2 linked regions of the Homo sapiens genome follow. The protein of the gene in region 2 interacts with the protein of the main gene of each other region in a pairwise test. Each region holds a gene or a part of one and is shown on either strand. Other genes may lie near its edges.

Region 1 (8,281 bases), on a different chromosome or scaffold from region 2:
CATAACAATGATGAAAAAAGGAGAATTTAAGTTAAAATTAATTAAGGAGGCCCTTATTAGAAAAAATAACATTGCAGATATTATATAAGAATGAATGAAATAGAAACTACAGTTTTTATGATTAAGGTGTTCATTCCAAAGATCTGATAAAAATTTGTCTTTGAAAGATTAGTCATCAAAAGGCTTGAAAAGAGTGAAGGATACAAAGTCATAGGTTATGCCCCATTCCTGACAAGGGCATTTATGGCAGGAGCACCCGACCTGGAGGCAGGGACCAGGCTTCTCAGCCTGGTTTGGCTCTCTCTAGCTCTGGGCCTTGGGTGAGCCAGGGGTCTCTTCTGTAAAATGAAAAATTGGTCTATCAATCCGAGGCCCTCCCCTAGCCCTACCATCCGTGTAAAGCCATAAGCCTTTGTAACTCACCATCAGAATCTCTAGGCCTAAAAGAACTCCCTCTAAAATCAGTTCTAGTCAAACGCCAGCCTGGTAGTTTTCAATCCTTGTTAAGGATTGAAATCCTAAAATCTTTTTAGGGTTAAGATCAGAAATGTAACCTTAAGGAAATAGAAGAAAGCAGCTGAAATACATATTTTTAAAGTGATAAACTGATTCTGATCTATTTCTCAGGGGGTGAGGGGGAAGGCAATACAGTGAACTTGGAAAAAAGAAATATTGAAATGTCAATATAATATCTTTTATGGGTTCAAGAATTTATCCTAAACTTTATCTTTTACTGTGACAGTCCCAGAGTCCTCAATAAGAGCTTCAAAAATTTTAGTGGGGTTTCTGGAAGAGTGCTATCACTATCTGGAAATTTCTAAAAGGCTTCTCTCTTTTTATAAAAAAAAAAATTCCTATGTTAAATCTATGATTTGTGATTCTCAACAATGGAATACTAATGGATACTCAAAAAACACTAATTGCTCATTTTTTTCCTAATTACGAAATGTAATAATTCTTTAGTGAAAACATTAAACATGATGTCATTTTTAAAGTGCCAGACTTTGTATTTAAAGCATTGCCACAAAATAGATAGCTTACTTATTTTACAAATAGCAACACAAAAAGGGTCTTCTGTGTCTTTAAGTCTGTTTAGCATATCTGAAAGTGCTTCTTCCTCACACTTAGATATTTAAGGCAATTGCCCCCCAGTTTATTACCTTATCTCAATTGTATAATTTTCTTAAATAGAATTCAGAGAAATAGTCATAGATTTAAATTTTTAAACACTAATTAAGCATTGGTTGATTCCCATAATACAGCTGGTAGTCAAAGTGGACAAGATAATGAATTGACTGAGATCACTGTTCCATCTTCATCCAAGAAAGCTGCCTCTAAAAAAAAAAAAGACCTTAAATTGCTGTAGAAATCCAATTTGTAAGAAGCAAAAGAAGCATATAGATGGGAAACACCAGCCAGGATCACATTAATTTTGTGACTAACTGCATTGCTTAGAAGAAGAAGAAGGAGAAGGAGAAGGAGAAGAAAGAAAAGATGACAAAAATAATAAGTCCACTCAAATCCCAATTTTAATCCAACAACATAACCAGAAGAAAATGAACTACAAATACAAAGTTCACATCTTAGTGATCTAGTGAACACTACACACCGACAAAATAATTTTTAGCTTAGTAAGAAGTAAACTCCAATGACAAGAAAATATTATAGGATTGTGATACCTCATTGCTAAAAAGTAGATTATAGTAAGAAATTGGGAGTCTAGGAACTTGCCATCATGGAAACTCCATGATTGATTGGTTTTGAATGTGCAGGTGTGGGAAACTGACAAATCATTGTAACAAAAATCTTAAACTTACTAGAATTGAAAATCTATGCAGGAAAAGTCTCTGTGACAAACTACCATTCATTTAGCCACCTATTCAAATAAAAGCTGTGACATAACAGAGATCTAGAAATAAGGGCATGGTTTCCAATTTTTTGTTGGAATGTTCTAATAAACTATCTTCTCAGGTATCAACTATATAAGGTCACGACTGACCGCTAATTGACAGGCAATTTATCGGCACCAGCAATTTACATTAAAAATAGTGGGCTTGGAGATATTTTCAAATATGTTTACTATGAGTTAAGTTGAAAAATAAAAACCACTATAATCAGTAAGGATTTAAAAATAAGAGATCCATATAAAATGCTATAAGCAAAGGAAAATGAGAAACATTTCTGGGGAGACACAAGTGAGTTTTATTATACTTCTTCTTTTAAGTTTTAGAACTAAAGTAATAGTTGATATTCAACCCATAGAATCATCCTTCAGGGGCATACACATCTAGGTTTGAATGCGGAAAACTGTTTTATTGTTTTTTTTTAATTTTTAGGTTTCTTTTTCAAGAACTTTCTTATTAAAACTTAAATACTTATTGAAGTGATTCATGAAACCTCACAGAAAGGGGAATTCATGCTTGACACATTACTTAACATGCTCCATAGCTTCCCCACTGTAGTTCATATGCTTCTGAACATATTTTACCTGGGAAATAATAGTCTTATTCACACACACACACACACACACACACACACACACATCCTTCCACATAAAATGCTATAAGTCCCAGGAAACTGACAAAAGCAACATTAAAATTTTGTGCAAAATCTAAACTCCATTTCTGAATTCCATCTATGAAAATACAACATTGGTTCTATTTAACTAAGTGCAAAGTTTTCTCTCTGTTTAATATGCATAATAAACATCATCCTTACCATTATCTGTAGAATAAAAGCAGCAACGTGTTGCTTCCTGCAGTCACCAAATCAAGTTTTTTCTTCCTTTCTTTCTAGTAACTTCTGTTTCACCAGCAAGATTAGGAAGAAAATAAGTCTTGAGTATTTGCCTCAGTATTTCAGACCAGAAGATAGTGAAACTAGCTTTTAGTAAAAAGAACAGGTCTGGTATTTTACAATTACTTCTGCAACCCAGAGGTACCTCCTAGACTCTGGTACCTCCCTCGTTCTCTAAGTTTCTTTTAGTAATGAGACTAATTTTTCCAGTAGTCTTGAACTCCCTAGATTTAACTGACATGGAAAATGTGACTAAAAATTTGTGGAACTGTCTAGCCTCCAACCCTACACAGAATCAACTTTGTTGTAAATGTTGAAGAACACCTCGCAAGCAGCTACATGCTCAGTTTATACTCCTGCGCTACGCAGCAGAGAACACCAAATAACAGTGCGCCATCTAGTTAGCAAGCTGCAATCTCCATGCTAGAAGGGGGGACACTTTCAAACCCTGGGAGTTAAGAACTTGTCAGGGTTCAGCTGCTCTAAAGGTCCAATTGTTTGTTTAAATAAAAAAAAATATCGCTACTGAGATAATCCACATCTAGTGGATATGGGAAAATTTAGGTTATAATGGCACTACAAACTTTTACATCTAACTTTGATTTACAAGATAAAAGCAAGTTTTAAATTAAAAGGGCTTTCTGTTAATAGAGCTTATTATTCTGAAGACGGGAATGATTTTCTTCGAAAGTTGTCCCTGGGTGCATGCCTATTATCTTTGCTTTTCCCCTTCCACTAATGAGCATTTATCTAAAGAGCCTGTTAATCCTCTGATGTGTGCTTCTGGTCAGAGGTAACAGTTTGAATAAAACCACTAATCACTGATCACTAAATCACTGATCATTAATCACACTTTCCAGTGCCCATGACTGGGCCATTTTTTTTCCTTTAAGTCTATGCATCACAAACAAGAAGTTCAACATTTTCGATGCACATATATTGTGTGGAGGTTACACTATTTCATCTCTAGATGTGAATAAATACTAAATCCTGCCACAGACTTGGGGAAGGATGTCAATTAGACCCCAGACAGGAGTTTCACAAATGCCTACCCTACAGCATGGCTTTCGCTTTGAAGAAAGTAGATCTAATTATAAGAAAACATGTGTTCTTCAAGAAATTCCCACATATTTGCAATATAAACTTTTCTTTATTTAGTTTTCACCAACTCCAAATCAGGGACCACTCCAATCCCCTCTCTCCCTCTATCCAAAACTCTGTTAATACTTTTTTAAATTTAATTTCTGCTGCACACCTCCCTCACGCCCCCACCCCCCCACCCCCCACACCGAGGGTTCTTTTTACTTTGATCCCTTGCAACAAGTCATACACAGGGTCTTTATTTCAACTGCCAGATACGGAGGTTCTGACTCAGTTCAATGACTTACGTATTCGACTTCCTCTTTCAACATAGAAACTTAAGGTTAAGAGCTAGAAACTAACGCACGCAGCAATTTATTGTATGGAAGTTTAGGTTCAACGACTCACATTCCCTCACTTTGGAAATGAAACGTTTAGTCTTGATCCTTTCAGCTAAACCTGATTTTGTCAGCATCCCTCTTCTGCTAAAGGGCAGGCACTACGTAAAGTGAAATACTTTGTTTGCAGTGGGTGTATTGCTTTCCTAAGTCACCACCACGAGGACAGAGTATTATCATAACGCTTGCAAACATTTCCTGATTTGCCTTTTCTATCAGGACTAAGCATTTTCGCCCTAGAGGAGAAGGCTTACTGGTGCCTTTCTTAAATAATACAAAAGGGCGGATTGCGCGCTGATCAGGTACAGTGGTCCCCTCAGACCCCAGAAGCTTTTACCCACACTCCAGGGACCGTGCTCGCCCCAGGGAAAGCTGTAAAAAGGCGGGGGCGGGGCTAGAGTGATAACGGTGTAGACGGGGGAGTGGTGGAGAGGGAGGGGCTGGGAAGAGAGGGCAATAAAGATGCCCAGGGAGCCGGCGATTGCACGAGTGTGTTGTGGGGAGGGTAGGGGGATGCAAAGCAGAGTTGCTTTGTCAGCATTCTAAGCTCCTGAACCCTTGAGGAGCTCAAGCCGTTAATCAAACACTTACTGGCCTGCAGAATGACGTAATGGACCTGTATCCAGTCTTTATTCCTTGACACATGTCAGAGAAGGAGGGAAAAATAAAAATCAAACACATTCTGCAGACTGACAACGAAATATACAAGTAGCCCGCTCCAGTCCCCGGCCTTGAGCAAGCATCAAGTGGGGGCGGCACCGGTCCAGGGAAAGTTGGGGATGGGGGTGAGAGTGTGGACAAGGTCTAGGGCTTTATCTACCAGACGCCCCTTAAAAATAAATCTATGGCAAAGAAGAAGCGGGATGCAGCTGCTGAGAGAAAACATCTCCTTGGTTCCTTCCTTCGCATCTTGCCCCTCTAAGAACTTCGTGAAAAGTTCAAGTGATTCTGCCGAGAATCTGCCGCAGGGGGAGACTCCGCCGCCAGGTCTTGGGAATTGCCTGGGCGCCGCCAAAGCTCGAGCCGGAGCTGTCATTTGGGGCAGCGGCCGGGAAGAGGTAACGATGCCAGCAAGAAAGCAGCGGAGGCAGGAGGCGGCCGGAGGAGTGGACTGGAGCGGACGGAGCCTCGCCGCTCTCCAGCCCGGAGCGCCTGGAGCGAAAGCCAAGCGCCCTCCGAGGGCGACCTCCCCTCCCCGGGCGCGCGCCCACCCGCTGCAGCCGGCAGCCCGGCGGGAGAGGTGGCAGCTGCAGCTCCGCACCGGGGAGAGCGAGCCCCCTGCGCGCGCGCCCACCCGCCCCCTAGGTGACCCGGCGTCCTCGCCGCGCCCGCTGGAAGTTTGCAAACTTTCTCCGGGGGTTCCGCCGCCACGCTGGGAAGCTGGGGACGCGGGGGGAGGTTCCTGGCTCGCCGTCTCCGCTGCCGCTTGACCGCACTTCTGGAGGGCTCCGCACCTTGCCAGGTCTCTGGAGGCAAACACACACCCCCGATTCATAACTGGTCCCCGCGTCAGGGGACTCGCGCGCTCCCACACACGCACGCACGCCGGGCGGACTCGGCGCCGGCTCCACGTTAGCATCCCTCCAGGCGCGCGGCGCGGCGGCCACCGAGCGCTCCGGCACTCACGCGGCGCGGGGTCTCTAGGGTGGCCTCAGGACACAGCCGAATTCCACAGTCTACCAGCACTCGGGGCCGGACTTCCCTCTGGTCCGCCAAAATGTTTACAAACACAGATCACCCTCCAGAAAAAAATGCATCGCATCTTCCCTACTCCTTGCCCTGTGACCTGCCCACTGGACCAAGTAACCTCGCGGCTGCTGCCGAGAACCAACCCCTGCAAACAAGTACACTCCCGAGATGGCTCCTGCGGCAAGTGCAACAAAAGTGGCTAAATGCAAAAGCCCCAGAAGTGGCCGAGCCGTATTTTTAGGAACTTACCAAACAAGTGTGGAGAAGGCAAGAGCGGAGCCCGGGTGAAGGGACCACGTTGGACTGAGCAAAGATTACAATACATTCTATTTAGAGTGCATTACATCACCCCCCCGGTGACGTCACGTGGGATTCCTGAACTTCTAAATCATTGCGGTCCGCTGGGGAGGGACGGAGCGAGGGGCGGGGCCGGCGCGTCGAGGGGGCAGGCCCCGCCCCGGTCCCGCCCCGACCCCGCCCCGCCCGCGCGGACCCTGGTGCACCCGCCCGGGAGCGGCAGCGGCGGGGGCGACTGCGCAAGCAACAGCTTGCAGAGCCCAGCGCCGTGTGACACGGCTCCCTGACATTAGTGGTGTGAGTCAGCTTGGAAACAATCCTTATGGTTTCAGACAAGACCACGGAGGAGGCGCGGGCGTGGGCTCTTCTGCGGGGAGGGCCTGATGGGGTTTGAAAGGTGTAGGGATGGGGGTAGGGGAGAGGTGGGGAGGGGGATGCTGAAGGATGTGGGAAAAGACTTTGCAAACAGAAATGCAGGACGCTCCTCCCTCCCCCACCGGAGGATGTCCAGCTCCTTTTTGCTTGCGACAGTCATGACCTCATTTCAGTGCTCCCTGCATCCTGGCTTTTCAGAGCACTCACTTGTCACCCCTTCTTCACCGCCCCCTCATCTCACCTCCTCCAGGAGAATAACTTCCTTATGGTGCACACTCTCATGAAATACACAGCCCCACCCTTCGCGGGACCCCTGCTTCATGCGTCTGAGAAGCTGTAGGGAGAGTTGCTCCTAAGGCGAAAGGTGAATCACAGCTAGAGCCAAGTGATGAGCCTGATTTAGACACGGCGTCAGAGCCGAAAGGGCCCTTGGCTGTCACTTCCAGAGCCTCTTCGGTAACTGGCCCAAGCTCACGGGCTGGGGAGCGGCAGAGCCAGGGCCAGACTGCAGGATCCGGGCGCCTGGTCTGCAGCGAGAGGAGCCTGGCGTCTCCAGTATCCGGCCGTCACCATCACTGTCACCATCCCCCTGCTGAATTTCCTTTCAGAAGTTCTCCCTTTGAGTAGGATTCAAAGAGAAGGCATAGGCTAAATCCAGCCCGATTCTAGACGACCAATGCCAACCTCGCAGCCCCTCACACCTTACAAAGCGCTTGCGACCACGTGATTTCCCTTGTTTCTCACACCAACCCGGGTACCAGAAGTAGGACAGGTATTATAATTATTCCCATTCTACAGGTGAGCTAAGGCAGACACCAGAAGGTTGGGGGCTGGCCTGAGATCACTTGATGAGCAAGGGGTGGCACTGGGCCCAACTCAATCCCTGTTTTCAAGCCCAGATCCCAACTGGGCTCCTTCATAGAGCCAGGGGTAAGCATTCCCTTCTTGTGGGTTATTGGTGGTTGGAACCTCTGCTAAGAACACATTGGCTGGGAGATGGAGCTTTGCTTAGAAACAGTTTAGCCCTCGTTAATAAACAATAATCATTTCTGACATTTATGTAACATCTGACATTTATATAGTACCTCTCATCCCAATGCATCACAACCATGACGGTGCAGTTTGCCAGAGAATCATGACTGGACTGGCTAGAAACTGTAATACATTGCCTGGATTGTCACATACTTCTGAGCTGGTTTTGACATACTAAATGGAAGAGCTTAGCATGTTGTTTCTGTTTTTAAGTGTTTAAGTGGCCCCTTGCCCTTTAGTGTTCCTTGAAACCACAGGGACTGATGACTGTTTGATCCTCACAGCCTTATTCAGAGTTCATCACTGAGTTTTCTACTTATTGTAGAAATAAAATCATTGCAATTTCATGCAAAAGGTTTCTAGCTGTCATATTACAGACTGAGATTTTTACATATTCCAGATCTCACACACACACACAAATCATTTCTAAATGTAAACTGAAGAAAAGAAGAGGTATTTATTAGTGTAGATTCTAGTGTCAGCCTGCCTGAATTCAAATTTTAGCTCTGCTACTTGACGCCTGGTTCTCAGTTGCCTCAACTATGAATGAGGATGGTGATGATAACTACAGCGACTCGAGTTAAGAATTTTATTACTTGAGTTAAGAATTGTGC
Region 2 (7,589 bases):
CTCAACATCTAATCCTGACTCCTGCACAATTATTCCTCTTCTTCAAGAACTTCTTAACTCAGTGCTTTCAAAGCAAAAGGTAGCTAAAAGTACTAAGCCAGATTCACAAAACCGCAGAGGATTTGAATAGTGTAACCCATAACACCAGGCACAACTTCAATTTGCATTTCCAATGATAGTTGTAACAAACTTCATACTGGCTGGGAAATAAAGTTGCCAGACAAAAAAATTAAAAGCAAAGAAAATTCGCCACCTCCGATCCGAAGAAAAGCCCATTTTCAAGCAGTGACAGTCTTGGACAAGCCCCAAACACGCTCACACGCGCTCGGCACACTGCCTTCCCCAAGAAAACGCGAATGGAAGTAGAATACCTTTTCGGACAATCCCATCACCATATTAAGGATCACCGTGGATTTCCAACACACTTTTTGGGTGGCCCACCAAGGTTTCTGAGAAATCATGAAGAGCCTTCAGCGTCCACGCGGGAGCCCAAAGCAAGCCCACGGTCTGGCTGACCCTAAGCAAGGATTTGTCTATGCTTTAAAGGAAAAGCTGGGTTCACCGAGGGCCGAGGAGAAAGAAGCCAGCGCAGGGGCGGCCACATTGCAAGTTACCACGGTGGAGCTGCGCCCTCTGCAATCCGCACTGAATAAATAGTTGACGGAAGAAGGAAAAGGAAAAAGTTATGAATGAAAACAAGTTCTTTCTCCCTCTCTCTGTGGTAGGAGGAGGGGAGGAGGCTGAGGTTACCATGAGCTCAGGAGGGCGGACTTCCCCACTTTTTTTTTTTGAGCCGGAGTCTCACTTTGTCTCCCAGGCTGGAGTGCAGTGGCGCGACCTTGGCTCACTGCAACCTCCGCCTCCCGGGTTCAAGCGGGTCTCCCGCCTCAGTCTCTCGAGTAGCTGTGACTACAGTCGCGCGTCACCACGGCCGGCTAATTTTTGCATTTTTAGTAAAGACGGGGTTTCATCAGTTGGTCGGGCTGGTCTCGAACTCCTGACCTCAGGTGATCAGCGCGCCTCGGCCCCCCCAAGTGCTGGGATTACAGGCGTGAGCCACCGCGCCCAGCCGACTTCCCCACTTTTAAAGTGGCAGTGCCCTCTCCCTTCCCCTGTCTTTGCACTGTGCTCCAAACCAGAAGAAAGTTGCGGCTGGCTTTGGGGCTGCCTAATTCTATCGAGGGGGTAATCGGCGAATTCCGGGGATGTGCCTACACACACACACGCACACACACAGCCTTTGTCGTCCCCCTGCTTGAGGCACACTCCTCCAAAGAGGGCCTCCGGGGACATCCCCAGAGCCGCCTGAAATCCCCCTTGGGCGTGAAGGGCTCTCCGAGAGGACAACCTGGGCCACCGCGCCGCCGCTCCGGGTAATCGGGGATGGAGGAGACCCTGTCCTGTTACGTTCCGCAGCCGCAGACCGTCGCCCACCCCGCCACCCAACCTTGAGCCCCCAGAAGCCGCGGCCCCCAGGGGGCAGGGAGCGGCGGGAGGGGCCGCGCCGAGCGAGGTCGTCCCTCCCCTCCCCTCCTCTCCCGGAGTCCTGGCTCGGGCAGCAGCGCCGCCGAGTCCGCACCTGCCGCGCCGAGCGAGCCCCGCCCGCGCGCCTACAGCCCAGCGGGCCGAGGGCGGCCGCCGCACACACTCACCTAGGCCGAAGCGGTGGCCGGGGGCCAAGCCGTGCGACCCGGCCCAGGTCCTGGTGCGGGCGGCGGCGTGCACGTGCCGCATCAACCGCGGCGGGGAGGGCGAGGCGGCATCGCCGGAGTTGGAGCGCCTCGGCTCGCGGCCTCCCCCGCCCCCGCCGCCACCGGCCAGGAGCGCTCCCCGCGGCCCCCTTCCGGCTGCGGAGGGCAGTTCTCCCGCGGCTCCGCGCGGCCGGGCCCGGACCTGTCACGGCTGGTGCTCGCCGGGCGGCTCAGTAACATCCACCTCGGGAGGTCTTCTGCAGCCCCTTTCCAAGAACCAGTTTTTACAAATCCTTTCAGGAAGGCTTCCCAAGTCTCAGAAAAACAAGTAGGGGAGTGGCGGAGTCGAGTGCGTGACGGGCCAGCTGACGGCACGGTGTGCTCAGAGAACTCGGGTTCTAGTCGCTCCTCGCAAGGAACGAAGGAAGGGATGGCGGCTTCCTGACGAGCGAAAAATCCACGTCACGGGCGTTCGAGACTCCGCAGCGCCCGGGTCGGGGCCCGAACCGCCGTCGGCGGGTGGGTCACGGAGCCGCGCAGTACCCCGGCGAAACCTCGGAGCACGCGCCTGCCAGGCAGAGGCTGCCGCGGCCGGGAGGGGGAGGGGGATTTTTTTACCCTTTTCTTTTTTTTTTTTTTTTTAGCGGGGAGGAGTGAAGAGAGTGAGGTTTGGGGATCCTTCTCGGAGAGAGAAAGGCGGGCGTCGTCCCTTGTGCCCCGCGCAGGCCGACGCGCTTAGCCGATTCCGCACGTTGGGCAAGTGGGGGCACAGCGTCCCCGGGCACTCCGGTCCCGGCAGGTCAGCCTCTCCCGGGCAGCGCTCACACCCAGTCCTCCGAGCCTGGGGTTCCACGGCCGAAATGCCTGCGACAGAGAATTAGAGATAGAAGCTCGTGAATGTCCCTTTCTTCGAAGGGCTGGGACCCCGGGCGGGCCGCTGGCCAGCTCGCCCGCAGCCCGTTGCCATGTGCTCCCTGTTGCTGCTCCCGGTGATTGACAGGCCGGCGCACAGTCGGCGTGTCAGCCGCGAACCAAAGTAACATGCAGTCCTGCACGTTTTTGCCGAGGTGCTTTTGCCCCCTGGAATGCCTAGGAGTTCAAACAACGTTCAAGCAACGCCTCTGCGCGTTAGGAATCAATACACAGAGACGGGAAATTCAGGTTTTAAACCAATGCTTCACTCGGGATTCGGTCGCCAACAATGCCTAAACAAACACGCATTTGGTCCACACACCGAGTGCTAGCCCCTCTTCGCATAAAGGCATTAACGGCTCTGTGTTTCACAAATTCGATCGTTTCAGACTTTAAACGTCTACTGTTCGGTTAAGGAAAGGTGAAAGGGACCCTGCTTTTTCTTTTAGCGGTAGCATTTACTTTAAGAGCATTAGTTTTAGCAGTGGGAATGCTACCGGTGTTTTGAAATGCAACCAGTAACCTTAGCTGGAAAGCAAGTTCAAATAAATAAATGTTCAGTTCCTTGCAAAAGTCAACATTTCTCACCTTATCTTTCCTAAAATGTCTACGGAAGGAAACGGTACTTACCTAATGCAAAGATTGCAAATTGCTTTTCAGGCACATTTAACAGCGACTGTAGCTGTTCCTTATCCAGGGCAGGGAACTGTGCTGATAATCACTCTGCAAAGCACGCAGTGGTTTGCAGAGCGGTCTCACTCCGGCTACGCAGAATTTCAGCTCCTTGCCTCCACCTCCACCTCCACTCCAGGACACGCCTCCGGTGATATCATGTGTCAATCACTCGGGCTGCCCGAAAACCTGGAACAGGATTTCCTTAACTATCGTTTCCTCTTTCGTTTATGTGTACCAACTTGGAAATGTTGCCCTACAGACTCGTGTAATAAACATCCTCTTAAAACTTCGGGAGTGCCTCTAAAAATTCTGCAAATGCAGTTTGTCATAGAGGAATACATTCGGATTTAGTTAGCAATCTTCAGTTGTCGATCTCAATTAAAAGGATTGGTGGACTCTACTCTTAAGTTGAATTAGAAAAGAATTGTGAAGAATAAAAGAAAATGAAAAAAGTTGTATGCCAAGCCATCACTTCTGACCAACTAGAGGGAAAACGTATATTGACACAAAAAGATGATTATATAACATTACAGTTCCTATTTACAACAAAGTTCAGAATATGTGAAACCTAAAGTTCAAAAGGTGGCACTCCTTACTGCAAATGTAATATAAGCATATGTAATAAAGGTGAAATTTTCTGCTGTGGGTTTTTTAAATAATTGCTTTACCTTGGCTTGTTATATGATTTCCCAAAAATCAAGCACATGGAGAAAAAACCAAATTCTTTCAATTTTGTAATATAGTTGTATAATTTTGCAAAAAATACAAACCCGTATATTTTTTAATTAGCTAAAAGTCAATTAATTAGAATAGAAAAAATTTATCAAGAAGTTTTATAATTCTTAGTAATAGCTGATATGACTGGAAAAAAAACACTTTAAGTAGGAAACTTGATTTCTACTTTCTTACAAACTATGGGATTTTAGGCATTTATTATCAAAGTTGTGCCTTTTCATGCTGCAGTGAGGATAACTTTTTGTGGAATTGAAGGTTCCGTAGAAACTTTTAAAAGCCACCTAAAGACCAAAAACTTAGTGGAAAGGAAATATTTTTCCAGGTACTATATATCAGGAGTAGCTTAAAGTCTGGCAAAACAAAGCAAACAATAACAAAACTCTAGAATCTAAATCATATAAACATATAAGTATGGAAATTTTTAGTTCAAAGTACATTTTTAGTCTCATTTACAATAGCAAGTGGTTCTGTTGAAACTATAAATATATACATACATAACACACACGCACACACACAGGACTTTCAAATGTCTGAGCACTTTCAAAAATTAAAGTTGTGTTTGGAATTGCCTCTGAAGAACACAGAGCATTGTTAAGAACATGAATAACAATAAAAAAGCATCATTAGAAAATAGCATAGAATAAGAATCAAGCCAAAAAGCTACATATTCACTCTTAATATTATGAATTGTATTAAAATAGGCTATTTAAAAGAATAAAATTGATTTCATTGTATTTTTTTCATAGATCTCATTAGATTTGGGGATGTAATGAAATTTTACTAGTGATGGATAGGTTTCTTGTGAATGTATTTGGAATAGACAAATCAAAAATAGACTATCCTATCAGAGTATCTTATTTGGTTCTTCAAAACTATTACCACAGTTGTGAGCTGAGAGGTCAGTTCACCAATATGATAAAACCTGGAGAGGGAGCACTGAACATTCTACCTTCATAAATCCTACAAAATATATTTGAAAGATTTCTATTGCAAATACACTCTATTTCAACCAGAAATGTATTAAAATAATTTTCATTAGATCAAGTATTTTTAAATTATAATAATCAAATCCATGAGATTTTTATCTAAAACACCATCACCATGGGTCATGTTGTATTAAGAAATTAAATATGCTGTACAGAGTTGATCAATAACCCTCCATGTCATTTAGCACTAAAATGCATTAATATGTTTTTCTCTAAATATTACATTACAAATAAATGTACGTATAGCTCTGTCACCTTGGTTCTAAAAGACATTGAATGAAACTTGCCTCTCCTGATTCCCCGCAACTATAAGACTTTGTAGAAATTCTAAATTTTTAGCTTAAAGTATACATTGTTTTTCACTTGGTAAGTTTAATTACATTGTAACTTGACTAAAAATGGATAACGGAAGTATGAAATTTTTCCAAAAATGAAAAACAATGCAAATATCAATGGGAAAAATCTTATAATAATTTTTAGTTTATTAAGATATGTCTAAATAAAGTGGAATGGAAAGTGAGCCCTGACTTGTCCTTAATTTTCATGTGAAAACAAGATTAGCCATCGCTTGTGTTAATTTGAGTTTTGAAAAAGAATAAAGTGAAATGAAAAAAATTCAGTAACTCCTCACAACTTCTAGTGATTAAAAAAAAAAATGGCCAGGCATGGTGGCTCACGCCTGTAATCCCAGCACTTTGGGAAGCTGAGGTGGGCTGATCACCAGAGGTCAGGAGACCAGCCTGGCCAACATGGCGAAACCTGGTCTCTACTAAAAATACAAAAAATTAGCTGGACATGGTGGTCTGTGCCTCTAATCCCAGCTACTCAGAAGGCTAAGGCAGGAGAATCGCTTGAACCCGGGAGGCAGAGGTTGCAGTGAGCCGAGATCGCGCCACTGCACTCCAGCCTGGGCGACATAGCTGGACTCCGCCTCAAAAAGAAAAAAAAAATTAATACAGTTATAGGAAGCTTAACTTATTCATGTATCTACTTTATTTGCCAAAATAAAAATAACAATCATGTGTTCCAAGCTTTTGAAAAATAATACGTTATTAATTCTCCTAATGTTTCTGTGAAGTCATGATAAATAAATGTATCACAGTCTTTTTATCTTGTTGAGAAACAAACACACAAACTAAATAATCACAGACATTGATGAGTTAGCTTATAAGCATGTCATAAATCAATGAAGACCGGTAATGGAAACTAAGTTCTCTTTACTTTCCTTTTAGGGCAATAGTCACTATATTACTATACTTCCCAAGAAAAGCTGGCAAGGATAGGCCATTTTATTTTCAGTTTCCTTTTGTAAACAATCTTTGTAGTTGACAGAAATAGACCAACCTATTCTGTAAATTTTCCATAAACATTCTCTTCATTTTCATAAGCGTAATTCTCATCCTTCTGCCTTATTTGAAATACGAATGTTCCGTATTGGTTTCAAATTCTGGAAGTGGGCAAATCAAGCAATACGTTGAGTAAATTACACTGAATGATTTGTAGTTTGTGTCAGCTCTATAATTCAACTAATCATTTGTGTACTTTGTCACAGGCGATTCTATTTTTCTGCAAGTTGTCAGAAAAGAAAGAAATATACCTGGACGTGTCCTAAATTGGTGCGCTTTATTTCTTAAGTGCCATATTCCTTTGGAGAGAATAAAAGTGACAAGAGTTCAGATAAACTGCATCCCTACTATATATTAAAGATTTTACTAATTAAACCCACATGGTAAGATTGTCTAAGGAAACATTTTTGCCCTACGTACAAAACAGTCCTCATTCTTACCTAGCTAATTGCAAAATAAATCCTGTCTTCTTTCCTCTTCCAGTGATGTCAGATGTTCCCCCCAAGCCTTGACTTGTTCTTTATTTTCATGAGAAAACAAGATTAGCCATCTCTTCCGCTGATTTGTATTTTGAAACAAGAAGTGGAATGGCCCTTATAATGATCACCTGGTATCATCTTTGATTCTGGTCAACAAAATTTATCAATCTCTCATTCCCACAACTACCTACTGCTATCTTAATCTTCAGAGACAAGCACGTAAGAATCTACGTTAAGTTAAACTTGTAACTGTCCCCCAAAGATAGCACAGTAAGAAAATAAAAGTGTGTTCTCATTAAAACAAAAACAAAACAAAAAAAGCATCTCTTAGGGCTTCCTCACTATAATATTTCCTATTGAAATAACCTACGTCAAAGGCTACAGTTTATCCTTTATTTGAACGGAAAAAAAAGTAGAATATTGATTTGATGAAACAACTATAGCCATACCCTTTAAGAACAGAGAATGACTAATATTGAAAAAAGAAGGCTGGACACGGTAGCTCACGCCTGTAATCCCAGCAGTTGGGAGGCCGAGGCGGGTGGATCACCTGAGGTCAGGAGCTCGAGACCAGCCTGGCCAACGTGGCGAAACCCTGCCTCTACTAAAAATACAAAAATGAGCCGGGCATGGTGGTAAGTGCCTGTAATCCCAGCTACTCTGGAGCCTGAGGCAGGAGAATTGTTTGAACCCGTGAGGCAGAGGTTGCAGTGAGGAGAGATCGCACCACTGCACTCCAGTCTAGGCGACAGAGCAAGACTCCAT

Evidence for each region.
Region 1: the proteins of SPRY1 (region 2) and CREB5 interact in binary tests that used the Homo sapiens proteins (3 or more experiments, as listed by UniProt).

Annotation. Positions count from the first base shown.
Region 1 is NC_000007.14:28,407,355-28,415,635, reverse strand, and holds the start of CREB5 (cyclic AMP-responsive element-binding protein 5), read right to left. Parts: upstream 3,119-8,281; 5' UTR 2,722-3,118; coding exon 2,719-2,721; intron 1-2,718. UniProt on the Homo sapiens protein: Binds to the cAMP response element and activates transcription.
Region 2 is NC_000004.12:123,392,577-123,400,165, reverse strand, and holds the start of SPRY1 (protein sprouty homolog 1), read right to left. Parts: upstream 3,372-7,589; 5' UTR 3,234-3,371; intron 2,556-3,233; 5' UTR 2,310-2,555; exon of another isoform or gene 1,653-2,309; intron 1,645-1,652; exon of another isoform or gene 1,349-1,644; intron 627-1,348; exon of another isoform or gene 372-626; intron 1-371. UniProt on the Homo sapiens protein: Inhibits fibroblast growth factor (FGF)-induced retinal lens fiber differentiation, probably by inhibiting FGF-mediated phosphorylation of ERK1/2. Inhibits TGFB-induced epithelial-to-mesenchymal transition in lens epithelial cells.